7 linked regions of the Homo sapiens genome follow. The protein of the gene in region 7 purifies or fractionates together with the protein of the main gene of each other region. This does not show direct contact. Each region holds a gene or a part of one and is shown on either strand. Other genes may lie near its edges. The genes, in order: P2RX4, MTCH1, PIGN, OSBPL8, GLG1, IGSF3 and SPPL2B.

The links.
Region 1: the proteins of SPPL2B (region 7) and P2RX4 purify together in Homo sapiens (co-immunoprecipitation; 3 studies listed by BioGRID and IntAct, with this or other methods). This does not show direct contact.
Region 2: the proteins of SPPL2B (region 7) and MTCH1 purify together in Homo sapiens (co-immunoprecipitation; 3 studies listed by BioGRID and IntAct, with this or other methods). This does not show direct contact.
Region 3: the proteins of SPPL2B (region 7) and PIGN purify together in Homo sapiens (co-immunoprecipitation; 3 studies listed by BioGRID and IntAct, with this or other methods). This does not show direct contact.
Region 4: the proteins of SPPL2B (region 7) and OSBPL8 purify together in Homo sapiens (co-immunoprecipitation; 3 studies listed by BioGRID and IntAct, with this or other methods). This does not show direct contact.
Region 5: the proteins of SPPL2B (region 7) and GLG1 purify together in Homo sapiens (co-immunoprecipitation; 3 studies listed by BioGRID and IntAct, with this or other methods). This does not show direct contact.
Region 6: the proteins of SPPL2B (region 7) and IGSF3 purify together in Homo sapiens (co-immunoprecipitation; 3 studies listed by BioGRID and IntAct, with this or other methods). This does not show direct contact.

What each region holds. Positions count from the first base shown.
Region 1 is NC_000012.12:121,220,129-121,223,628, reverse strand, and holds part of P2RX4 (P2X purinoceptor 4), read right to left. Parts: intron 1,717-3,500; coding exon 1,645-1,716; intron 1,536-1,644; coding exon 1,463-1,535; intron 900-1,462; exon of another isoform or gene 862-899; intron 683-861; coding exon 586-682; intron 1-585. UniProt on the Homo sapiens protein: ATP-gated nonselective transmembrane cation channel permeable to potassium, sodium and calcium. CTP, but not GTP or UTP, functions as a weak affinity agonist for P2RX4.
Region 2 is NC_000006.12:36,969,197-36,972,696, forward strand, and holds part of MTCH1 (mitochondrial carrier homolog 1), read right to left. Parts: coding exon 3,456-3,500; intron 1,499-3,455; coding exon 1,451-1,498; intron 1,278-1,450; coding exon 1,210-1,277; intron 919-1,209; coding exon 843-918; coding exon of another isoform or gene 657-842; exon of another isoform or gene 1-656.
Region 3 is NC_000018.10:62,103,557-62,107,056, forward strand, and holds part of PIGN (GPI ethanolamine phosphate transferase 1), read right to left. Parts: coding exon 3,430-3,500; intron 3,326-3,429; coding exon 3,233-3,325; intron 2,079-3,232; coding exon 1,987-2,078; intron 1-1,986.
Region 4 is NC_000012.12:76,392,272-76,395,771, forward strand, and holds part of OSBPL8 (oxysterol-binding protein-related protein 8), read right to left. Parts: intron 2,459-3,500; coding exon 2,374-2,458; intron 482-2,373; coding exon 310-481; intron 1-309. UniProt on the Homo sapiens protein: Lipid transporter involved in lipid countertransport between the endoplasmic reticulum and the plasma membrane: specifically exchanges phosphatidylserine with phosphatidylinositol 4-phosphate (PI4P), delivering phosphatidylserine to the plasma membrane in exchange for PI4P, which is degraded by the SAC1/SACM1L phosphatase in the endoplasmic reticulum.
Region 5 is NC_000016.10:74,597,115-74,600,614, reverse strand, and holds part of GLG1 (Golgi apparatus protein 1 isoform 3 precursor), read left to right. Parts: intron 1-3,500. UniProt on the Homo sapiens protein: Binds fibroblast growth factor and E-selectin (cell-adhesion lectin on endothelial cells mediating the binding of neutrophils).
Region 6 is NC_000001.11:116,664,934-116,669,117, forward strand, and holds the start of IGSF3 (immunoglobulin superfamily member 3 isoform 2 precursor), read right to left. Parts: upstream 2,801-4,184; 5' UTR 2,685-2,800; intron 2,536-2,684; exon of another isoform or gene 2,428-2,535; intron 2,024-2,427; 5' UTR 1,394-2,023; coding exon 1,351-1,393; intron 1-1,350.
Region 7 is NC_000019.10:2,345,684-2,349,183, reverse strand, and holds part of SPPL2B (signal peptide peptidase-like 2B isoform 2 precursor), read right to left. Parts: intron 1-3,500. UniProt on the Homo sapiens protein: Intramembrane-cleaving aspartic protease (I-CLiP) that cleaves type II membrane signal peptides in the hydrophobic plane of the membrane. Functions in ITM2B and TNF processing.

The sequences.
Region 1 (3,500 bases), on a different chromosome or scaffold from region 7:
CTGACAGAGTCCTAACATACAAGGAAGTCAGTCACCTGCACCCTTCTCGTGAGTGACAGACTACTTGTGGCCCATCTTGCCACTGATGGTCGCTGCCTTGTGGTTGAGAGCAGCCATCCTAGGGCAGCCTGACTTCATACAGACACCAGAAACACACAAAAAGCCACAACACACAGGTGTAACTCCTTGACCACCTCTGTTCAAGGCTGACACGCAGAGTTGAAGGTGCTTCCGGCTGGGTGTGGTGGCTTCTGGCTGGGTGTGGTGGCTCCCGCCTGTAATCCTAGCACTTTGGGAGGCCAAGGCAGGTGGATCACTTGAGGTCAGGAGTTGGAGACCAGCGTGGCCAACATGGCAAAACCCCGTCTCTACTAAAAATACAAAAAATTAGTTGGGCGTGGTGGTGGGTGCCTATAATCTCAGCTACTCGGGAGGCTGAGGCACAGAAAATCACTTGAACACGGGAGGTGGAGGTTGTGGTGAGCCAAGATCGCACCACTGCACTCCAACCTGGGATACAGAGTGAAACTGTGTCTAAAACAAAACAAAACAAAAAGGCACTTCCTTCCCTAGGGCTGGACTCACTGTGGCACGTGTGTGTCATCCTCCACCGGGCACCAGGCCGCCACCTCACACGTCTTGACAGACCCGTTGAAAGCTACGCACCTGCCTGTTGAGACTCCTACAAGCACAAGGGTGGCAGGGGGGTCCCATGTCCACAGGGGTCTCCTATTTTCTACCTTTTTGGAGTAGGGAGTGAGAGCCCCATCCAGCCTCCCATGCAGCCAGTCTTGAGCTGTGCAAATCTGGGATTTAGACAGTGTCACTGTCCAGGAGTTAGAATCGGAGGAAGACAGTTACCTGTGTGCCAGCCACATCTCAGCCAGGGTGATGCCAAGCTAAAGAATGGGACAAGAGGCCAGGCACAGTGGGTCATGCCTGTAATCCTAGCACTTTGGGAGGCTGAGGCGGGTGGATCACCTGAGGTCAGGAGTTCGAGACCAGCCTGGCCAACATGGTAAAACCCATCTCTACCAAAAGTACAAAAATTAGCTGGGCGTGGTGGTGCATGCCTGTAATCCCAGCTACTCGGGAGGCTGAGGCAGGAGAATTGTTTGAAACTGGGAGGTGGAGGTTGCAGTGAGCCGAGATCATGCCATTGCACTCCAGTTTGGGTGACAGAGCGAGACTCTGGCTCAAAAAAACAAAAAAACAAAACAAAAAAAAAAACAAGAAAAAACAACAACAACAACAAAAAAAAAAACAGTAGGGCAAGAGCTGGGATGGCTTGTGGGGCTCCAATGACAGCAGTGAATGTAGAGGGGCTCCAGGACCCCAGCCTCGGCACCTGGCTCACCCAGGGTCATGTGAAGGAATTGGGAAGATTTCTCTATCAGAGACGCTCCACAGTGGGGGCGATCTGCTCAGGGGCCGCCCTCCCCAGGAGGCCACAAGCTCGTACCGTTGCTGTGGGTGCCGGCAGAGCCGGCAGTACAGCTGGCATCTGATTTACACACAGTGGTCGCATCTGGAATCTGGAAAAAGAAGGAGCGAAAAGAAAGTCCACGTGGCCCGGCCCCACACACAGGTGGACAGGCGTGGAGAGGGGTGTGGGGCCTGGGGCTCTTCCCGGGGGCCTCCTACCTCGGGGCACAGGCCCTGTGTCTGGTTCATGGTGAGGATCACGTTGGTCATGACGAAGAGGGAGTTTTCCTCCTGCAGAGGGGAGACAGCACGGGCAAGCCACGCTCAGAGGACTCACGGAGAGCCAAGAAAGGCAGACGCTGACTGAAGAGGACAACTCAAACACTGACCGCGTGCTCTCCCGCTCTCTCCCATCAAAGTTTATAACCCAATGGAAAACAGTGACTCAAACAAGTCCTTGTACATAAATATTCAGAGCAACACTTTTCACAAGAGCCAAAAGGTGGAAACAGGTCGGGCGCGGTGGCTCAAGCCTGTAATCCCAGCACTTTGGGAGGCTGAGGCGGGCGGATCACGAGGTCAGGAGTTCAAGACCAGCCTGGTCAACACAGTGAAACCCCCGTCTCTACTAAAAATACAAAAATTAGCCGGGTGTGATGGCGGGCACCTGTAGTCCCAGCTACTTGGGAGGCTGAGGCAGGAGAATTGCTTGAACCCGGGAGTCGGAGGTTGCAGCGAGCCGACATCGCGCCACTGCACTCCAGCCTGGATGACACGAGACTCTGTCTCAAAAAAAAAAAAAAAATGGTGGAAACAGCCCAAATGTCTGTCCTAGTCTAGTCACATGATGGAATGTGATTCAGCCATGAATAAAAAGGAATGAAGGGTCCAGGCATGGTGGCTCACACCTGTAATTCCAGCACTTTGGGAGGCTGAGGCAGGAGGATCACCTGAGGTCAAGAATTCCAGATTAGCCTGGCCAACATGGTGAAACTTTGTACTAAAAACACACACACACACACACACACACACACACAAACACACACAGACACACGCACACACAAAAGGAGCCGGGTGTGGTGGCGGGCACCTGTAATCCCAGCTACTCAGGGGGCTGAGCCAGGAGAATCACTGGAACCTGGGAGGTGGAGGTTGCAGTGAGCCGAGATCACGCCAGTGCACTCCAGCCTGGGTGACAGAGTGAGATTTCATCTCAAAAAATAAAATAAAGGAATAAAGCACTGATACAGGCTACAACATGGATGAACCCCAAAAACATGATGCTGAGTGAAAGAAGCCAGACACAAAGGCCACACAGGATACCATTACATTGATGTGAAATTTCCAGAACAGTCAAGTCCATAGAGACAAAGCACTTACGGGTTGCCAGGGAGTGAGAGAAGTGGGGAATGGGGAGTGGTTGTGTAACATACGAGGCTTCCCTTTGGGGTGATGGAAATGTTTTGAACTAGATAGAGGTGATGCTTGCATAACACTGTGAATGCACTAAATGTGCTGAATTTTTCATTTTAAAATGGTTAATTTCTTTCTTATTTATTTATTTATTTGAGACAGAGCCTTGCTCTGTCGCCCAGGCTGCAGGGCAGTGGCACGATCTTGGCTTACTGCAATCTCCGCCTCCTGGGTTCAAGCGATTCTCCAGCCTCACCCTCCTGAGTAGCTGGGACTACAGGTGTACATCACCACACCTGGCTAATTTTTGTATCTTTAGTAGAGATAGGATTTCACCATGTTGGCTAGGCTGGTCTCCAACTCCTGGCCTCAAGTGATCTACCTGCCTCAGCCTCCCAAAGTGCTGGGATTACAAGCATGAGCCACTGTGCCCGACTTAAAATGGTTAGTTTCTATAAGTGAATTTGACTGCAGTTAAAAAAAGGGGGGGGTCTGCAAACTGAAACAATGGTTTCTCAATCAAACTTGACTTACTGAGGGAAAGAGCCAACAAGTGCTAAAAACATTCCCTGCCAACCAGATTATCTCAGAGGAATAAAAACATGAGGCCTCATGGGGCTCAAATCTGGCTGGTTTTCTTTCCTAACTGAAATTATAAATCA
Region 2 (3,500 bases), on a different chromosome or scaffold from region 7:
GGAGAGCCCTAGAGAGGAGGCTCATTGCCCCTCTTGCTTCAGAGCCCAAGTGGTCTAGGACTCTTTCAGTGCTCATAGGGAGGACGAGACACACTCACGCTGACCAGGGCCACTGGGAAGAACTGCGGCTCTCCTCCCTGCTTCCCTCCCATCTGTCCTCTTCTCAGCCTCGAGGCCACTCAGAGTTCTGGCTCCCTCCGGGCCACTGCCCCATTTCACTGCGAGGCAAATCAAGGCCAGGAAAAGGCAAGGTTCTGCCCTCGGCCAAAGCCTGGACCCCTGACTGCTGGGCCCAAGAGCTCCAGCTACGGAGAGGTAGCTTCGGTACAGAACACGAGAACCCAAGGTTGGTACTGCTGCCAGTTCCCCACGTGGCCCAGCCCCACCCACAGGCTCTCCTGGGCCCAGGAATGTCCTGCAGGAGGGAGGAGTCGGTTTCCAATGCCAGCCGCCCTAACAACCCAGGAACTCAGCTCAACTGGTTACAGACCTCGAATTTTCAGCCCATGTTACTTGAAGGAGAAGCAGTTCTTGGGCTTTACCACCTGCCACCTGGGCCAGAGTTCTCTTATCCTTATCCTAAGAGTCTTTAAGACTCAAAGAAGAAAAGGTCTTGTCTGATGTATAATCTTAAAATAAACCCACACTTAGCCACCTCAAATCCTTTCTGAAATTATGTAAGATGAAAACTTAAATGCCTTATAGATACCAAGTATCTCCTCACAATATTGAATTCCATGAAACCACTTATCTTTGCATGCAATGAAGCATCCACAAAACCATTTCAGCTGAAGGATGTAGCAAAGAACAGGAAAGGCCTCCGCCGTCCAGTGCTTGCTCACCTGCACACTCAGGTACTTCCAGCAGTGAATCCAGGATTTGAACACTGGGGAGTAAGGGGGGAGCCCAGCTTGCAGCCTGCCGGAGAAGGAGAGTGTAGATGCAGAGAACAGTGGAAGACAGCCAGCCACGGGAAAGCCACTTCAAGAAGGAATGCCTTCAGGCTACCACCCATCCACACCCTGACCCCTGACACCACAGTTTACCCCAGGGGGTGCTGGGAAATCCCAGCGGAAGCCAGGGTGCCTGGCAGGCCAAGCCTACACACAGAGCAGGTGGGAGGGGGCAGAGTGCTGGAAGGGCTCGGTGGGTCTCCCCCACCCCACAGCCTTGGTAGGTAGAGTGGCAAGTAGAGGGGCGCACACCTACCCGCAGTTGTTCACAGCCATGAGGTCGCCAACTAGCAGGAAGGGGTAGGTCAGCATGCTCACTGCAATCTGAAACCCAGAGAGGCCTGAGTGCCAGTGACCCACCCCGGCCCAGGGAGCAGGGACACACCACGCCAACACCCTGTACCAAGACCTGCCTCCAGCCATTACCAGGGTTGGCCTCCTAGGCCCCGCTTGGGTCCGCAAGGCAGTGGGAAGGAAGGACAGCTGGCACAACTTACCCCCATCACGAACTTGGTATAGCTCCGGATGGCCAGGGCCTGGCTGAACTGAGGAGACAGAAGGGAAGAGTGGTTTGCCACAGGCACCTCAGGATGCAGACTTCAGCAACACATGCCCTCACCCCACCCTCTGTGCTGAGCTCCTCACAAGCACGCTGCACATGCCTTTCCTGTCAGCCCTCACAGTCACTGCCCAGAGAAGGCCTGGGGGGCAGAAACGGGGTAAGTGGACTGAAGGGAGTCCCGAGAAGGAGACCCGGTAAGAGGGATCAGCTGCCGCTGCCTGTGCAACCCACCGGACTGTGAGCCTCAAGGGCTGAGCCCGTGTCTGCCTGATCAACATCCAGGGCTTGGCACGCAGTCAGTGCTAAGACAGACATGCACCCTGAAACCCAAAGACGAATCCTGGCCTGTGGGGTGAGGTGAGGGCAAGTCCAGGCTTATCGCCACCTCCACCTCAGCAAGCTTTTCCCCCTTCAGACCCCAACTCCTCAAATCCTGCTTTGCTGAAGCAAACAGCTCCTAGTGAGGAAAGGTGACTCCCCCACCCTCAGCTTCCTGTGGAGCGGCCATCCCACCAGATCGATGGCCTGGGTTCTTGGTCAGAGATTTGCTCAGATGTCTGCTTGAGTGGCTTTGACAGCCCGGCAGCCTCACCTCGGCCTTTAAGCCACATACAGAAAAGCACTCGAAAAACACTTTAGACAAATCTGTTGACTGCTGTTGTTGCTGATGTAAGCACGGCAGCCTCTGGTCAGACAGCTGCCCACCTAGATGAGAAACCACTTAGCGGTGCACTCCTGGCCACCCTTGCTCTGTATGTGACAGCAGCAGCTTACCCACCCACAAGGCCCCCCGAGAAGGGGCAGAACTGCAGGAATGTACCACTGTGATTGCAGATGGGGTGGGTCTCTATGGAGCCACTTTAATTTGCTTACATCGAAAGGCCAGTGAAGACTCACCTGCCCAGGTCAAGTGGCCAGTCTCCCTGCAAGCAGAGGCTCCCATCTGGGATGGGGCACTCCTCACCACACAGAACAGACATGTACCACACACACACACATGCTGAACATGACCCCCTTCCCACCCAGGTGATTCTGGCAGACACGTCCCCAGGCCCTCCTAGCCTCCTGGGAGGGAAAGCCACTTCAAGAAGGAATGCCATCCTTCTTGAAGGTGATCCCCACTGTGAGAATGTCTGGACACTGCAATTCCCAGCCATCGCTGCTCCCTACCTCTTATCTTGGTTCAGGCAGAACCAGTCAACCCCTCAGGTACCTGGATGGCCTTCCTCAACAAGTGCTGTGTAGAAGGACCAGGCCTTCCTATGCCTGACCCGACCTGCTGAAAGGTCTATGTATACTAGGCTGTGTAGACCACAGCTAACAAAATAGGAGGGTGTATCGGACTGTACACTTCCTAGCAGATCTGAAAAAACTCAGAGGAATGCACCCTTGGCCTGGCCAGGGATCTAATTCCAGCCCTGTCAGTTCCAGCTGAGTGACTCTGGAGAGCCCAGAGCCTCTCCAGAATTTGTGATCTCTGGGTCTCGATTTCTGTATTGGTAAACGAACATTATACCTGCCCTGTTCCCTTCACAACTAGGATGCCGTCAGATCAAAGGCCATAACGTTCACAAAAGGGTTTTAAAAAGCAAAAGACGTGACACAAAGGTCAAGAGGTGATCACTATTAGCTGGTCTATCTTCTGACTTCCTGAGCCCTAGTTGGGTCACTGCCTCGGAGCAGCCTTAGATAAGCTGGGGTCTGTTTCTAAGGCGCCCAGGGACAAGCATTCCATTAATTCCTCCCAGGTCTGGGTACTAATCTGGAATCTCGCCTCTTGAGGCCGTTCTCCCCTTAGACAAAGATGACTCCAGGGATAATGAGAGGTCCTCTCTCACCCTCCCGGCCTGATGCTGAGAATCCCAGAATCCTTGAGTTTGTCCCAGACCCTGGGCATCAGCAGCACACGGAAAGAAGGACAAGTCCTTGTTCCAACCAACCTGGGAACCTGGATTCTGGTCGTTTCCCAGCCCCCCTGGGGTGTC
Region 3 (3,500 bases), on a different chromosome or scaffold from region 7:
AAATGGTGCCCTATTGTTGAGCTCTTTCTCACCTCCTTAACATCTGAATAACATAGCACAGCCAGAATTATGCTGAGGATGAAATCCAGAACCCAAATAGAACTAAGAGAAAAGGAATTGGTTGAAGAGAAAAAAGAAAGAGCAAAAAGCAGAGCTGGACACCTAAGAAGAATGCAAAGCAGGAATCCCCAGAAAAATGCTTGATGGTTGGTTGTGATGCTTCAAATACACTCTTTGAGAATCCTAAGGAGAAAGGTAATCATATATTCAACATGGATTATCATTAAAATTTAGGAAAAAATAGTCACATATGATCAAGATTCTTTGCTTTTTTTCTCTTTCTTAATTTTTAAAATAATTTGGTATCTAAACTTATTGGCAAATATGTTTTTACTTTAGAACACTGGAGTAACAGACATCACAACCATGTTGTACACGTTTGCTTTTTCCTTTAATTGTATCCTTAAATGTTTCACAAAATCACATCTTTGTGATTTTCTGAAGAAGGGAGATGCTGTGACAGATGAAAAGGAGAGTAGAAATTTCCCCATGAACCAGGAATCAAAATAAATAAGTTGCAAATATAGCTAGTAGGATAAACTTAAAGTCACTGAGCAATTTAAATTTAGAGGGAAACAATATAATTTTCTAAAATATAAATTAGATTTCTCATATTTTAACAAGTTTATTTGCTTCCCACATTCATCTTTAGTAGAATACGCAAGTGGCAAATTTATACAATTTCCTTCCCTTTTAGCATATGATAAATTCTGCTCAACTATGGCAATACTGCTTGAGCAGGACTGATAGGCAGAGACTGACAAAGGGAAGGAAAGGGGCTTTATAGAAACAATACAAGAGCTTACAGAGCTATCTGAAGCAAGAAATAAATGAAAATATTGGAATTCATTTTGTCATATACTATTTATAGGTTATGACAGTTGCAAAATGTTTTTACCTAGTAACACTCTAATAAAGTATGGCTTAGATAGTATGGTGTTAGAATTCAATACAATTATTTTGAGCTCTGCTAATAAAGTGACTTCCTGGGATATTTCCTGGTCTATTGCATATTGGTATTCTCATACAAATAGGAGAAAATGTATAGAATCTCATAAATCAGCACATATTTTTACAAAATAGTATTTAGTTAATCTTCCTTGATTTAAAAATATATACCATTATCCATTACAGACTTGGTTAGAATGTTTTAAAAAATGCTTATAGCATTCTGAAGAAAGTAACAAAGATGATTTAATTTCTAATTCCCATGATTAGACAATAAGAGAGGAAATGTTAAATGAAATAATGATCATATGCACACTCAAACAGCCCATAATTTACTTGACAATAAAGTGCAGTTAAAAGCAAAGGTAACCAGTTATTTTATAAATTTATTTAGGTCTATTGAAGAGAAATAAATATAGCAGCACAGTAAGGAATTTAGGTAAGATATGCAGAAGAATTTTCAAACAATTTGAGTGGTTAAACATGGGAAAGCTGGCAAGGTGAATAGAGTTTCCTCCCATGGAGATCTTTACATTCAATTTAGAATAGCAGAAAATTTAATTTTTACATGACATTTTAGTGTGGACATGATTAAAGCAAAGAGGGCTAACACAGTAGCTTTGAGACATTTTTGTTTTGGCAACAGAATGTTTTTTCACATGAAACTAAAACTTTTACTGATTCCTCCAAGCATAAAAGAAAGAAAACCTTCTAGACTTAAACAAAAAAAAATGGGCGGGATTTTAAGTTATCAGTGGCACAATTTCATTATGAAAGCCCGAAAGCACCTACTAGGAGGTTTAATGACTCTTAGAACCTAGGCCAAAATCATGACTAATGGTTTGATATTGGTATTTTAAATTCCCGTTAGTTCACATGATTTTATATTCTTGACCAAGATTAGGTTCAAATTTTACAGTGTTAATTGAGGAAAAAAAAGTGTATTGAAAATAGAATAAAATACAATATTATTCATACACTAGAGAGATGTCTGGCTTTCGACCTACAACCGGCATCAGTGGGAACACTGCCAGGAGCAAAGAGAAGAAAGTCCAACTCAGTGAGGTCATCTAAAATCAAGAAAAAAGTTATCTTTAGACAAATATGGTATAGAAAACTATCATTAGTGTTTCACAGACTATATGACTGTGAAGGTAAAAGGAAAATGCAAAGCCTTACAGCTGTTTATTATTTTATTTTTCAAATACTTTCTAGCAGAATCAACAGCTAACTACTTTAAAAAGTAATAGTTACTATTTGTGAAGGACCTGTTGCATAGCAGGTATAGTATTAGGTATAATATGAGCACTTTCTCATTTAATTCTCACAATAACCTCAAGAGGCAGGTATTATCATTCCCAATACATCAGATGATGAAACAGAGCTCAGAGAAGTTAAAATATAAGTAGTACCAGGTCCATGACAAGTAAATAAAATAACCAGTATTTAAACCTGCATAAAGTGCTTCATTCAATTTAGGTTAGACCATATATTGATGAAGACATCTATAAAAAAGGTGGCCTACAATAATCACCAAACAACTGAGCCCAGAAGGAAAATAAGTAAAACTACTTTTGTAATTAGATTAAGATCCCTCACAAATTAAAAGATCGATAATCCCATTCATTGAAGATTTTTTAATAAATTCTCAGAGTAGAAAGAAGATATCTTCCTGCTACTTCTATCAAAAAGTATCAAAGTGGAAATATAAGTGCATTCTTTGTAGAAGCACATTGTAATTCCCTATGTAGCTGAAGGAAGAAAATCAAGACTGACTATATTTTTAATAATCTATAATAAATACATACTTATCCAGAAAAAAAAAAAACTGAGTGGCTCAGGGTAACGAGGGAGGTGTTTCCTGTGACTCACAGAGTGCAGACCCCTAAGCCACTGGGCTGTGCTGCTCTGGACGACTCCTTGCCTGGTCCATTATCAAGATATTTGAAGCTAAACAAATCCAGGAAATGCTTCAGAGATGGACATATCAGTACAACTTATATAGCATTTCAATTACCACATAACTGGCCCATTTTGATGTGAAAGTCTAAGTGAATTACTGAAACCTTACAGGTAATGTCAGTCCTCCTATCAATATGACTAGGCTCTTTTATGTAAGAACACATTCTACCCTTTTCTTTAAAAATAAACAGTTCCTTGAGTTACACATGTGTCAAAACAAAGTAGTTACTAATCTGTCCTATGTCAAAATGAGTACTCATACCTTTGCTCGAGTCCACAGCCGAGTGAGAAATGGCCAAGCTGCAAAGGCAGTAAGTCCAGCGGTAAGCATATAGCGGTAGAAAAAACTGAGAACCTAGTAATGCATTCCAAAGAAGGAATGAAAAATAAGGTCATTTAATACTAGTTACAAATATATAAAAGAAATTTGCAAATGTTGTAATCTGGTAAGTTACTTACTAATACTTCAATTCCCAGGGTAAAGGCTAACAGGTACCCAACAAAATGGCTCAGAGGATAGGTCAACACTG
Region 4 (3,500 bases), on a different chromosome or scaffold from region 7:
AAAAGCGTAAGGAGGAGTAGGCAGAAATCATTCTTAATAGAAGGGACATCATGCACAGACAAGGTGAATAATTAGCATGGCTATATTTGGGAAAGATAAAGTAAATCACGTTGGCTGGAATCAAGGAAATACATTTCTACACCTGATTATAGCAGCTAAACAAATTTTAAGCCGGTTCCTAGGCCATATAATGGGAAGATATGCAAATTTCAGTCCTAGATACACTACTAAAATTCTAGGCCTGCCAACTAATTTTGTGAACAGTATGGTCTCTGAAACATTACCAACTCAGCGGCAGTATCTACTTACTGGAAGTTATCACCACTGTGGAGATTGTTAGCACGTAGTAAGCCATAGAAAGTCACATGTGTGCTATCTGATGAAACGCTCAGGTCATGTTCCTTTCCTTCTCTGATCATTGTACGTTTAAGAAGACTAGAACATTTCAAAGCCAACTCCAAAGCATCCATCCAGCACCTTCCTAAAAGAACACAGATTCATAAGCACTATAATTTTTAAAACTATGAAACTAGCATGCATCTTAACTTACCCTGTTACCACTATTTCTTTGAGAAACATGCACTGGAAAAGTTAATCTGAACATAACATCTTGCTAGAATTTAATGAAATCTTTCCGTTTTTCAAATGCTTTTCACATACTAAGCACACCACTGATAAATGAATAGTATACAGCATGCATTAGAAACTATACCCAATCTAAAATAAACATACTTTATTTTTCAAATCTTAGAACATTAACATGCAGTATAATTTGAAGGTATCAAGCAAGGTACATAAAATACACTTGAGGATTTATGATTCTACTACAAACAAACTATCTGAAGTAACTGTTTTTGTTAATAGGAGGTCTATCCTCAAGATTAACAACCATTCTACTTGTATGTATGAAACTTTTTAAGTCAGGAAAATGCCTGCATAATGCTACCATTAACTGCCATATTAGTTAAGAGAAACATTAATAGTTTTATTTTTTAAGTAAAAATTTAAAAGTGAATTAGCAGAAAACTTTTCATTTATATTTGTTTAGGGCTCTTAATTTTCATATATATCACTTCAAGATTTGCTGGGAATATCAGCCAAGTAAAGCATCTTCATATTGAAAGCTCATACCTATATTTTAATTTAAAAAAATCATCGGCCAGGCGCGGTGGCTCACGCCCGTAATCCCAGCACTTTGGGAGGCCGAGGCAGGCGGATCACGAGGTCAGGAGATCGAGACCATCCTGGCTAACACAGTGAAACCCTGTCTCTACTGAAAATACACAAAAATTAGCCGGGTGTGGTGGCAGGCGCCTGTAGTCCCAGCCACTCGGGAGACTGAGGCAGGAGAATGGCGTGAACCCGGGAGACGGAGCTTGCAGTGAGCCGAGATCGCATCACTGCACTCCAGCCTGGGCGACAGAGTGAGACTCCGTTTCAAAAAAAAAAAAAAAAAAAAAAAAAATCTGAGGCCAGGTGCGATGGCTCACGCCTGTAACCCCAGCACTTTGGGAGGCCGAGGCAAGCGAATCATGAGGGCAAGAGTGTGAGACCATCCTGGCCAACATGGTGAAACCGTCTCTACTAAAAATACAAAAATTAGCTGGGCGTGGTGGCATGTGCCTGTAATCCCAGCTACCCGGGAGGCTGAGGCAGGAGAATCACTTATACCAGGGAGTCAGAGGTTGCAGTGAGCCGAGATCGTGCCACTGCACTCCAGGCTGGCAACAGAGCGAGACTCCATCTCAAAAACAAAAACAAAACAAAACAAAAAAAATCAGATAAAAGTAAACTTTGGAAGGTTAGAAGATTCCCTATACCAACCTTGTCTAAACTATGAAACATGAAAGCATGAAAGTGAGGACAAAATCCATTATTAATTATTAAGATTTTAAAGTTACCTTGATATCATTTAAGTTTTTCTCTCTCCATATTTGCTTCATGAATTAAGTGTTAAAGGAGGAATAAAAAAGGTTGTACTCGAATCTCTTACATAAAAAAAAACAAAACCAAAACAATGTATATGTCTCATAAATGGTAACATTTAGTAGTAAAATATAAAAAGTATTAAATATATCTTTAAGAGTACCATAAAGACCACTAACAAATAAAAAGGTGTTAATATGTCCATGGAGGATGAAGAAGAAAACTCTGAACTGCTAACTCTTCAGTAAATCACACAATGCTTCCTTTCTATCAGATTTTTGTCTATTAAGTTACTCATATATTTAGCATTCAAAACAATTTATGATTACCATGCTTCTGCTGCAAATGCCATACTAAAAATATATTTCCCCAGAATAATACAAAGTGGCATTAAAAAAACTCTTAAAAATGAAGACCAAAATCCAATCCATCAAAAACTATACTTACCATCTGACTCTGAAGTAGCTCGGATGATCAAATAACTGCTAGGTAAGGGTTGAGTAATGGATCCAACCGCTTCACCTTTTGGACCCTTAATAACAAAATAAACAAAATAAATGGTATAGAGTAATTATTATGAGATCTCATCTTTACACTATCCAATATTATCTGTAATAATCTAAATCAGGTATGGATTATAATCTAAAGGCAAATGAGCTTTAATTTCATCATTCTTGAGAATGCAAATGTTAAGTATTAAGAAAAATTTTCTAACAAATATATCTCCTTAGCAGAAAACTGAACAAATGAATTATCACTTAAATATTATCTCTACATACTGCTTACATACTAAAGAGAACCTAAAGTTTACCATATTAAACCAAATTTTAACAATGTCCATCCCATGGATACAACTAATGAGATAAGAAATACTAAATTTCTAGAAGGCTAAAGAAAGCATGTGGAAATAGAATTATAATTTAAAAAAAGAGAAATGAACTTTAACTGGGTCTAGGGAAAAATAAATCTCCACTTTATAACCAATGACATACACCTGTTTTTAAACACCAACTATATAAGCTGATTTTATTTTTCCAGAAACATGAAAGAAAAAGAAATTCTGTCGTTGTTGTTGGCTAGGGTTGTTTGTTTTAGAAGTATACAATACCAACACTAATTAGTATCACCAATGCTAAACTTAGGTAGACACGAATCTGGAAAGAAAACTAAGTACTGAATTTAAAGTATAATTTTGATACAAAAGCATAATTTTTAAGTTGTTTTCAAAGGGTTCTTTAAAGTTATTAGGTCAAAAAATGAAATAAATTTCCAAAAAGCATAACATTAGAAAGTAAAGATGTAGATTCAAAACGAAAACAGAAAAAAAATTTAATATGACTTTAACAAATACCGTAATAATCTGCATTTTCAAATAGCTTTACAATTTATGGGCCAGTTCCTAAAACCAGTATATAGTGGGACATGGAATCAGACTGCCTGGGTTTCAATCATGGCTCCATGCTAGAAAAACAGGGTTCAATCTCTTTATGTGTACAATGGGAAGAAACTGTATCCTCCTTATAGGTATGAGAATTAAATAAATGATTTCATGTAAAATATTCAAGTACCTGACA
Region 5 (3,500 bases), on a different chromosome or scaffold from region 7:
GACTGCAGACATGCGCTACCACACCCGGCTAATTTTTGTATTTTTAGTAAAACGGGGGTTTCGCCACACTGGCCAGGCTGGTCTTGAACCTCTGACCTCAAGTGATCTGCCTGTCTTGGCCTCCCAAAGTGCTAGGATTACAGGTGTAAACCAGTGCACCCGGCCTCTTTTCTTAAGCAAGGACTGTCTACTTTAGCTTTGTCCTTGTTCTTTTTTTTCTTTGAAAGTCTTACTCTATCTCCCAGGCTGGCTGGAGTGCAGTGGCATGATCATGGCTCACTGCAACCTCAAACTCCTGGGCTCAAGCTCTCCTCCCACTTCAGCCTCCCGAGTAGCTGGGACTATAGGTACACAACACCACTTAGCCTTGTTCTAAGCGGAAATATACGTGAACTCATGAATTTGATGTGGTAGGTATACTTCTCTAATATATATGAAACTAAATATATGACTATAAAATATAAGTACCAACACATACCACCTGAAATCATCTTGCATATTACCAATAGCACATGCTTCAGAAAGCACTAACACTGGATTATCTTTCTCTGTTGTTTTTTTGTTTTGTTTTGCTTTTGGTTAAGACGGAGTCTCGCACTGTCACCCAGGCTGGAGTGCAGTGGCGCGATCTCACCTCACTGCAACCTTTGTCTCCTGTATTCAAGCGATTCTCCTGGCTCCACCTCTCTAGTAGCAGGGATTACAGGCACCAGCCACCATGCCTGGCTAATTTTTTTTTTGTTTTTTTTTTGAGACAGAGTCTAGCTCTGTCACCCAGGCTGGAGTGCAGTGGCGCGATCTCGGCTCACTGCAAGCTCTACCTCCCGGGTTCACGCCATTCTCCTGCCTCAGCCTCCCGAGTAGCTGGGACTACAGGCGCCCACCACCATGCCCGGCTAATTTTTTGCATTTTTAGTAGAGACGGGGTTTCACCATGTTGGCCAGGATGGTCTCGATCTCCTGACCTCGTGATCTGCCCACCTCGGCCTCCGAAAGTGCTGAGATGACAGGCGTGAGCCACTGTGTCCGGCCGAGGCTTGGCTAATTTTTGTATTTTTAGTAGAGACGGGTTTTCACCATGTTGGCCAGGCTGGTCTTGAACTCCTGACCTCAGGTAATCCCACCCGCCTTGGCCTCCCAAAGTGGTGGGATTACAGGCGTGAGCCACCGCTCCTGGCCTTGGATTATCTCTTAAGATTCTTCCAGCTCCGGTGCTTTGTGATTTTGTGATCTGTGGGAATACAAAACGTGTGCAAGAGAGTCGTAGCACAGGTGGAAAGGGGAGATGCTTTGGGGAATTATTAAAGGGGCTGTATTGACCGAAATAGAGAACTTGAAAATGTTTTCAGTCCAGGTCATGAAGGGTCGTATATTCACCTCTAGCTGGTTCTCCAAGTAAAGTCCAGAAATGGGATGTTTTTATCCCTACCTCAGATAAAAATATTACAGCAGATAATTGAGAATTACCTGTAAAGTAGCATTGTCGTTTATGGCAAATACTTTTTAAGAAATCTCTTGATGAGAATGCTTTACAGTATATAGTTGCTTAATAATTCATTGTTCTGTAGAAGGAAATAAAATACTTGAACAGTCCAAAAGATGAAATGCTGTATTTCTCTTTTGTGCATTTCTCCTAATGTGTTCAAAACAAATTTACTCAGGAACAATAACAAAAATCTCCTCTTTATATAAGTTATATATATATATATTTATATATTTGTTGTTGTTGTTTTGAGGTGGAGTTTCGCTCTTGCTCAGGCTGGAGTGAAGTGGAATGATCTCGACTCACTGCAACCTCCACCTCTCGGGTTCAAGCCATTCTCCTGCCTCAGCCTCCCGAGTAGCTGGGATTATAGGCACTTGCCAGCACACCCGGCTAATTTTTGTAGAGACGAGGTTTCACCATGTTGACCAGGGTGGTCTCAAACTCCTGACCTCAGGCAATCCACCCACCTCAGTCTCCCAAAGTGTTGGGATTACAGACGTGAGCCACCGCGCCCGGCCTTATTTATATATTTTTAAAAGCAGCAGTTAAAATGGCTTATAGGCTATCATGTAAATTAATTTTTCTTCTTTCTTTTTTCTTTTTTTTTTTGAGATGGAGTCTCATTCTGTCACCAAGCTAGAGTGCAGTGGCGCGATCTCGGCTCACTGCAACCTCCACCTCCTGGGTTCAAGTGATTCTCCTTCCTCAGCCTCCCGAGTAGCTGGGACTACAGGCGCCCGCCACCACGCCCGGCTAATTTTTTGTATTTTTAGTAGAGACGGGGTTTCACCATGTTGGCCAGGATGGTCTTGATCTCTTGACCTCGTGATCCGCCCGCCTTGGCCTCCCAAAGTGCTGGGATTACAGGCGTGAGCCACCGCGCCCGACCAATTTTTCTTCTTTCAGCAAACATTTATTGAAACCTGTGTGCAAGACACTGCTCAGTGTTCAAGTATACTACTGCTACTTATAATGGTTAGCATTTACTGAGGGTTTTCTGTGTGCCCTGTTCTGAGGGACTGGATGCTTTCTAGGCGTTATCTCATTTAATCTTATGAGAGATGTTTTATTATTATCATTCTTATTGATTTTGTTTGTTTGATTTTGTTTTCGAGACAGAGTCTTGCTCTTGACGCCCAGGCTGGAGTGCAGTGGTGTGATCTCAGCTCACTGTAATCTCTGGCTCCCGGGTTCAAGCGATTCTCCTGCCTCAGCCTCATGAGTAGCTAGGACTACAGGTACACACCACCATGTCCAGCTTTTTTTTTTTTTTTTTTGAGGCAGTCTCACTTTGTCACCCAGGCTGGAGTGCAGTGGTGCGATCTCAGCTCACTGCAAGCTCCACCTCCCGGGTTCACGCCATTCTCCTGCTTCAGCCTCCCGAGTAGCTGGGACTACAGGCGCCCGCCACCATGCCCGGCTAATTTTTTGTATTTTTTAGTAGAGATGGGATTTCACTGTGTTAGTCAGGATGGTCTCAATCTCCTGACCTCGTTATCCGCCAGCTTCGGCCTCCCAAAGTGTTGGGATTACAGGCGTGAGCCACTGCGCCCGGCTAATTTTTGTTTTTTTAGTAGAGGCAGGATTTCGCCATGTTGGCTATGCTGGTCTTGAACTCCTGACCTCAGGTGATCTGCTTGCACCACCATCTATCACCGGAGCTTTTTTTTTCTTTTTTCTTTCTTTTTTTTTTTTTTTGAGATGGAGTCTCACTCTGTCATCCAGGCTGGAGGGCAGTGGCATGATGTCAGCTCACTGCAACCTCAGCCTCCCTGGTTCAAGCGATTCTCCTGCCTCAGCCTCCTGAGTAGCTGGGACTATAGGCGCACCCCACCACGCCCAGGTAATTTTTGTATTTTTACTAGAGACGGGGTTTCGCCATGTTGGACATGCTGGTCTTGATCTCTTGACCTGGTGATCCTCCCGCCTCGGCCTCCCAAAGTGCTGGGATTACAGGCGTGAGCCACTGTGCCTGGTGAGTTTTGTTTTGGGTTTTTTTTTTGTTTGTTTGAGA
Region 6 (4,184 bases), on a different chromosome or scaffold from region 7:
GGTTGTTGCCTGAAATCAGAATTTTTAAAAGCTTCCCCAGTGATTCCAACATGCACACGAGAGTTTGAGAACCACTGATTGCACAAATCTATTATGAGTTTCAGACATTATTTAAGGCAGTCAAGGCATTTAGGACACCTTATATCCTTTAGTTATCACACCTTCCCTTGTTTTATTGTTTCTGTTTTATTGACATTCAGATGTCAATCATGGTGAAGCTGGGATAGGAACTCAGGTCCTCTAATTCTAAAGTCCATTCTCTTCCCACACACCTGTTACCTACTGCAAGGGTGTAGACAATGCATGGAAGCAATCTCCACTGCCAACAGATCACCCTAAGTTCCCTACGTGCAAGACACCTAGATTTGGAGACGTGAACCCTGTAGGCAACAATCATAATCCCTTCTGAATGCAGAGGACCGAGCCTTACAGAGAGGGCAGGGGGTGTGCTCATGTATGAGGTCTGAGATGGGGAAAGAGAATGGCACCAAATCCTGGCAATGAAGTTTATCCTAGACCTGAGATGTGTTCTAAGACAGCACGCTGAAGACAGTGCTCAATGGCATAAAAAGAATAGGCAATTGTTGAGCAGAGGGGCCTCTTCACTGGGGTGAAGGTCCTGCATCTGCACCTTAAGAGGGGTGTCAAAGGTTCACCTCTCAGGGCCATAGTTTCTTCTTCCCACTCTAGGCATTCTGATTTGTGGGAGCACAAAAGCCAATCCTAAAATCTCCCCTACCAGGCAGCTTCCTTTTCTTCAGGCTCTCCTTCTCCCAGAACTACGATCTAAGCTTCCTTGGTGAGGAGACACAGGACTAGTGCCCTCACATTTTTAGCCTTCAGACCACTCAGGTAGGCAAAGCATCCCTTCAACCCCCATCCCACTTACTCCCATTTCCACCTCAAAAAAGGCACCATCATTATCACCCAAACCAACTTTCGAGACAGAGGGGAATGATGTTCCCACTCCCAATTAGGAATCAATGCAGCCCAACAAAGAAGTGAAAACACCAGAGCATCCATGTTTGACATGCTACAAGACAGCAGCCCACCAGCCATGTGAAGTCCCTAAACCACAGATGTGCAGATGCAGGACCTCACCCCAGGGGCCAAGACAGACACTTTAAGAACAGCAAATGTTCCTTCTTATAGATAACAAATGATATTCCACCGTTGCTCTTGGGTTAGAAACGGGCCTCTTCGTACTCTACTCCAACCTGTGACACACACCGACCGCCTCCTGGTGTCCCCCAAATCCTAGTGTTGATGAAAAAGAACCACGAGAAATTACAGGAACCAAGAGCAGGTTAAACTTTCACATCGATTGCACTGATAAGCAGAGCCACTTACCCAGCACAGCCAGACAGCTCAGCACCGGGAAAAAGCACTTCATGTCGGCAGCCTCCAGGAGACACAACACAAGGCGCTTCCTCTTCTCCCAGCTCCTAATCTCTCATTTCTGGCAATCCACTTATAGCTCCAGAGAACAGTTTTGGAAATAGAACTTAACTCGGAAAATGGGAACAGATTAAAAAGAAGAGATCAGAAGGAGGGAGTTGGGGGGAAGGGGAGGAGTGGAGGCAAGTGTGAAAACTCCCCTATGCTACAGGAAGGGTCCACAACAATTCGGAAGTCGCTCCCGGCTCCTGCCACATCGTGTGCCTTGCAGTTTCCACTGAAATTGCAGACTGTAGTGGATTAATCCTCCAGAAGCACGGAAAAAAGGGTCTGAGAAAATCCTTTCATCCACTGATTATACAGAAATGTCCTTGGCTTCTCAGTGAAGGTGTCTGTGATCTCCCTCATTCGGATTCCCCAGAGAGAACAGGGCAGGTTTCGTCAAAACCTTTGACGGCCAAATCACCCTGCCTGGCATCAACCGTTTGGGTTTCTTCACCAAAAAGTCCGTTTCCATCCATGGTGGTAGGTCACGGAGGCGCCACCTGCCCCACGCCTGCCTAGGGCACACGAAGCAAGTTGGCGTTCGGCAGCCCTGAAGCGGTACCCCAGCGCGAGCAGATTTCTAAAACAAACACAACAGAGATTTTTATCAAAGGCAAAGCTGCAAAACCCACTGGGGCTGAGCGCTGAGCTGGTCCGGACACCTGGGTCCGGTTCCTGGACCAGGACAGTCAACCTCTGCATTCTGACCTTGGGCAAGTCTCTGTCTTTCCCTCCGCCTCAGTTTCCCTGCCCAGAGCAGGGCAACAGTGGGAAGCCCGATTGTTCCTGAAATACTTCCACCAAATGCTTCACTCCTGGGAATTCCCGTCACCTCCTACCGAGCCCGGGCGCCGCAGGTAGCCCCACCCTCCGCCAGGGCAAATCGGGAAGGGGCTCCGCGGTGGGGCCGCGACTCCCGGCCCCCGCCCCAACCGTGGGAGCTCTGCGCGCGACGCGTCCCAGGTGGCCCCGCTATTGTTTTACCTTGCAGGGTGTTTATATCTCGCTGATTGGAAAGAAAAGAAACCGGGGAAGAAGGGAGTCCGGAGCTCCGCTTTCAGCTGCCGGAGCGCGCTCGCAGCGCGCCCGCCCAGCCAGGGGAGGGGTCTCGGGCCCGACCCGGAGCTCAGCCGGCGCGGGCCCGCTCCCCACTCCCCGCTCCCCGCTCCCCGCTCCACGCCTCCCCGCCTCCCTCCCCGGGGCCCCCTCCGGGCGCCGCCCGCGCCCCCGCCGAGCCTGACCTCGCCCCTGGCCCTCTCCCTCCGCGCGCGTCGGACCGTCCTTCAGTCCATCCAGGCGCACGCCTCAGGGGACGCGCCGCTTCCTCTTCTCCCGCAACGGCACCAGCAGCCGCGCTGCGGCCCCTCCCGAGTCCCCGCCCCTCCAGCTCCAGCCCGGCCCGCCGCACTCGGCGAGGCGAGCGCGGGGCCAGGGCGGCGGCCTCGAAGAGAGGCCCGGCCCCGCCCCCGGCCCCGCCCCTGGAGACGCGAGTCCCGGCCCCGGGCCTGGCGGGGGCATGAGGGTGGCCCGGGGCACCGGAGGACCTGGGCAGGGCTGGCGTGTGGGCCGAGCAGCCCGGCAAGTTAATCAGGGCTTCACACCCAGACTCCGGGGCCGCCGGCGAGATGTACAGGCCCTTCCCAAAGCCCAGCTGGCCACCCATAACCTGGGAAGCCGGCGGCACAGAAGCTCGTCCTTCCTCCTGGAAACAAAAACAAAGCCCTTTGGAGACTTGAATCTGTTCACGAAGTGGAACCCCATATTGCACTTCACTCTTGGATAGAATTTGGACTCTGGAAACAGCCTGGGTTCTAACGCCGGTTCCTCCACTTCCTCGCTGTGGCCCTTGGCAAGTTACTTAACCTCTCTGTGCCTCAATTTCCCCATCTGCTATGTGGAGGAAATAACCCTTACTTAAGAGGGTTATGGGAGAAATCTGTGACATACTTGTAAAGCATTTAGAATGGTGCCTGATACATCACAAGTGGTCAGTAAATATAAGCTATTATTATTTTATGACCAACCGCCCTGTAAAGCAAGTGCTTTTTCGTTTTCTCACTACTTACCCAACACACACAACTTGCTGGGTAGACACCGTCACGAGGCGACCAAAGCAGAATAGACCGCCCTGCCCTCATGCAACTTGCAGTCTAGTGGGGACACAGACCATAAAATAGACATGACAAGAAAAGTACAGTGTTGAGGAAGCAAATGCAGAGACCCCAACCCTGTGTTATTGGGGGAGGGGCAAGGAGGAGGGAGCTTTGGTCGGGGTAGGTCCCAGGCTTCTCAGAGGAAAGGAAAACTCGGTTGAATGCCAAAGAACAGAAGGCAGCAGCAGAGGAAGAGACAGAGGGGAGGTAAGGAATCGCAGACTGAAGAAACAGCACCTCTGCAGGCCCAGAAAGGAGCCCAGTTAGAGGACCAGGACAGTCTGCTGGGCCCAAACTTGACTGTAGGAGAGAAGTGACAAGAAATGAGCTGAGAAGAAATCGAGTGCCAGAACCTAGAGGGCATTGTATGGTGTGTTAAGGGGTTGGGACCATTGGGAAGCCACTGAAGGTGTTGAGTAAGGGACTATGGTTATCAGATATACGTTTTATTTTTCATTTTATTTTAAGAGACAGGTTCTCACTCTGTGACCCAGGCTGGAATGCAGTGGTGTAATCTTGTCTCACTGCAACCTCCACCTCCCGGGTTCAAGTGATTCTCCTGCCTCAGCCTCCTGAGTCACTGGGACT
Region 7 (3,500 bases):
GCGTGAGTGTGTGTGGAGGGAGAGAATGGAATCAAGCGAATGAGAACGCGAGTGTGTGTGGAGGGAGAGAATGGAATCAAGCGAATGAGAACGCGAGTGTGTGTGGAGGGAGAGAACGGAATCAAGCGAATGAGAGCGCGTGAGTGTGTGTGGAGAGAGAGAGAACGGAATCAAGCGAATGAGAGCGTGAGTGTGTGTGGAGAGAGAACGGAATCAAGCGAATGACAGCGCGTGAGTGTGTGTGGAGAGAGAGAACAGAATCAAGCGAATGAGAGCGCGTGAGTGTGTGTGGAGAGAGAGAATGGAATCAAGCGAATGACAGCGCGTGAGTGTGTGTGGAGGGAGAGAATGGAATCAAGCGAATGAGAACACGAGTGTGTGTGGAGGGAGAGAACGGAATCAAGCGAATGAGAGCGCGTGAGTGTGTGTGGAGAGAGAGAACGGAATCAAGCGAATGAGAGCGTGAGTGTGTGTGGAGAGAGAACGGAATCAAGCGAATGAGAGCGTGAGTGTGTGTGGAGAGAGAACGGAATCAAGCGAATGACAGCGTGTGAGTGTGTGTGGAGAGAGAGAATGGAATCAGGCGAATGAGAGTGCATGAGTCTGTGTGGAGAGAGAACGGAATCACGCGAATGAGAACGTGAGTGTGTGTGGAGGGAGAGAGAACGGAATCAAGCGAATGAGAGCGTGAGTGTGTGTGGAGAGAGAACGGAATCAAGCGAATGACAGCGCATGAGTGTGTGTGGAGGGAGAGAATGGAATCAAGCGAATGAGAGCGCGTGAGTCTGTGTGTGGAGGGAGAGAACGGAATCAGGCAAATGAGAGCGCGTGAGTGTGTGTGTGGAGAGAGAACCGCATCAAGCGAATGAGAGCGCGAGTGTGTGTGTGGAGGGAGAGAACGGAATCAGGCGAATAAGAGTGCGTGAGTGTGTGTGGAGAGAGAACGGAATCAGGCGAATGAGAGTGTGTGTGTGTGGAGAGAGAACGGAATCAAGCGAATGAGAGCGCGAGTGTGTGTGGAGAGAGAACGGAATCAAGCGAATGAGAGCGTGAGTGTGTGTGGAGAGAGAACGGAATCAAGCGAATGACAGCGCATGAGTGTGTGTGGAGGGAGAGAATGGAATCAAGCGAATGAGAGCGCGTGAGTCTGTGTGTGGAGGGAGAGAACGGAATCAGGCAAATGAGAGCGCGTGAGTGTGTGTGTGGAGAGAGAACCGCATCAAGCGAATGAGAGCGCGAGTGTGTGTGTGGAGGGAGAGAACGGAATCAGGCGAATAAGAGTGCGTGAGTGTGTGTGGAGAGAGAACGGAATCAGGCGAATGAGAGTGTGTGTGTGTGGAGAGAGAACGGAATCAGGCGAATGAGAGCGCGTGTGTGTGGAGAGAGAGAACGGAATCAGGCGAATGAGAGTGTGTGTGTGTGGAGAGAGAACGGAATCAGGCGAATGAGAGCGCGTGAGTGTGTGTGGAGAGAAGGAGAACGGAATCAGGCGAATGAGAGTGCGTGAGTGTGTGTGGAGAGAGAACGGCATCAAGCGAATGAGAGCGCGTGAGTGTGTGTGTGGAGGGAGAGAACGGAATCAGGCGAATGAGAGTGCGTGAGTGTGTGTGGAGAGAGAACGGCATCAAGCGAATGAGAGCGCGTGAGTGTGTGTGTGGAGGGAGAGAACGGAATCAGGCGAATAAGAGTGCGTGAGTGTGTGTGGAGAGAGAACGGAATCAGGCGAATGAGAGTGTGTGTGTGTGGAGAGAGAGAACGGAATCAGGCGAATGAGAGCGCGTGTGTGGAGAGAGAGAACGGAATCAGGCGAATGAGAGTGTGTGTGTGTGGAGAGAGAACGGAATCAGGCGAATGAGAGCGCGTGAGTGTGTGTGGAGAGAAGGAGAACGGAATCAGGCGAATGAGAGTGCGTGAGTGTGTGTGGAGAGAGAACGGCATCAAGCGAATGAGAGCGCGTGAGTGTGTGTGTGGAGGGAGAGAACGGAATCAGGCGAATGAGAGCGCGTGTGTGTGGAGAGAGAACGGAATCAGGTGAATGAGAGCGCGTAAGTGTGTGTGGAGGGAGAGAGAACGGAATCAAGCGAATGTGAAGAAATGACCAGTCCCTCTGAGAACGGGGCACACGGGAGTTCTCTGTAGCGATCCTGCAACTGTCATTTGAAATTATTTCAAAATAAAGCTCTGAGAAAATTAATTATTTGCTAGAACACTCTTAAAAAAAGAGCCGCTGTGTCCAGCAAGCACACTGCTCCCGGCACTTTTTCTAACACCCATCTCTGTATTTCTGACGCCATGCCACGGGGAGCGTCCCTATTGGTCCATTTTAGGCCATCCACGTGTCCATCAGCCATCATCAACAGACGCAGACAGACACAAACAGGGAGGGCTGGCACCTATAAAGCCTCAGCGGCTTCAGTCTCAGGAATTACAGGGACAACTTGACAAGTTATGTTTCAGGAGAGACAAATCTCTGCAGCTGTGTTTTTATTTTTTCTTTCATTTTATTATTATTTTTTCGAGACAGGGTCTCACTCTGTTGCCTAGGCTGGAGTGCGGTGGCACGATCATGGCTCACTGCAGCCTTGAACTCCCAGGCTCAAGCGATCCTCCCACCTCAGCCTGCAGAGTAGCTGGGGCTACAGGCACATGTCACCATGCCCGGCTAATTTTTGCATTCTTCTGCAGAGACAGGGTCTTACTATGTTGCCCAGGCTGGTCTTGAACTCCTGGACTCAAGCAATCCTCCCACTTCAGCCTCCCAGAAAGCTGGGATCACAGACATGAGCCCCCGTACCCGGCCTCAGCCGTGATTTTAAAGGATAATCATGAAGACAGTAAAATCGGGCGAGGGGAAAGCCAGGGGCACCTGCAGCTGCAGGAGGCAGGTGTGAGGGGACAGGCCGGCCTGAACTCTCCTGGCCCTGGGAGTGGCCGTTTAGGGAGCCACGTGGAGGGCAGGGTCGGGGGCGTGGCTCGGCAGAGGAGGCCTGGCCTGGCCCTGTGCCCAGGAACCAGAAAGCACCACAGCTTCTTTCCTTAGGGCCAGCTGCGGTGGGGGACATTTTTCAAAACAATGTGGGTCAACAGATAACAGCACTTTGCGTAAATACGTTCATAACAAAAGAAACAGTAGAAGACAAGGCAAAGAAGAAAAAGACAAAAAGAGGAAAACAGGAAAGAAAAGGAAAAGAAAAGAACAGAACAATGGAAGCCAGGGAAAATGAGAAAGACGGGGACGGAGGCACAGGCCCAGGGAGAATGAGAAAGACCAGGATGTGGACACAGGCCAAAGGAGAATGAGAAAGACGGGGACGGAGGCACAGGCCCAGGGAGAATGAGAAAGACAGGGACGGAGGCACGGACCCAGGGAGAATGAGAAAGACGGGGATGGAGGCACGGGCCCAGGGAGAATGAGAAAGAGGGGGACGGAGGCACAGGCCCAGGGAGAATGAGAAAGACGGGGACGGAGGCACAGGCCCAGGAAGAATGAGAAAGAGGGG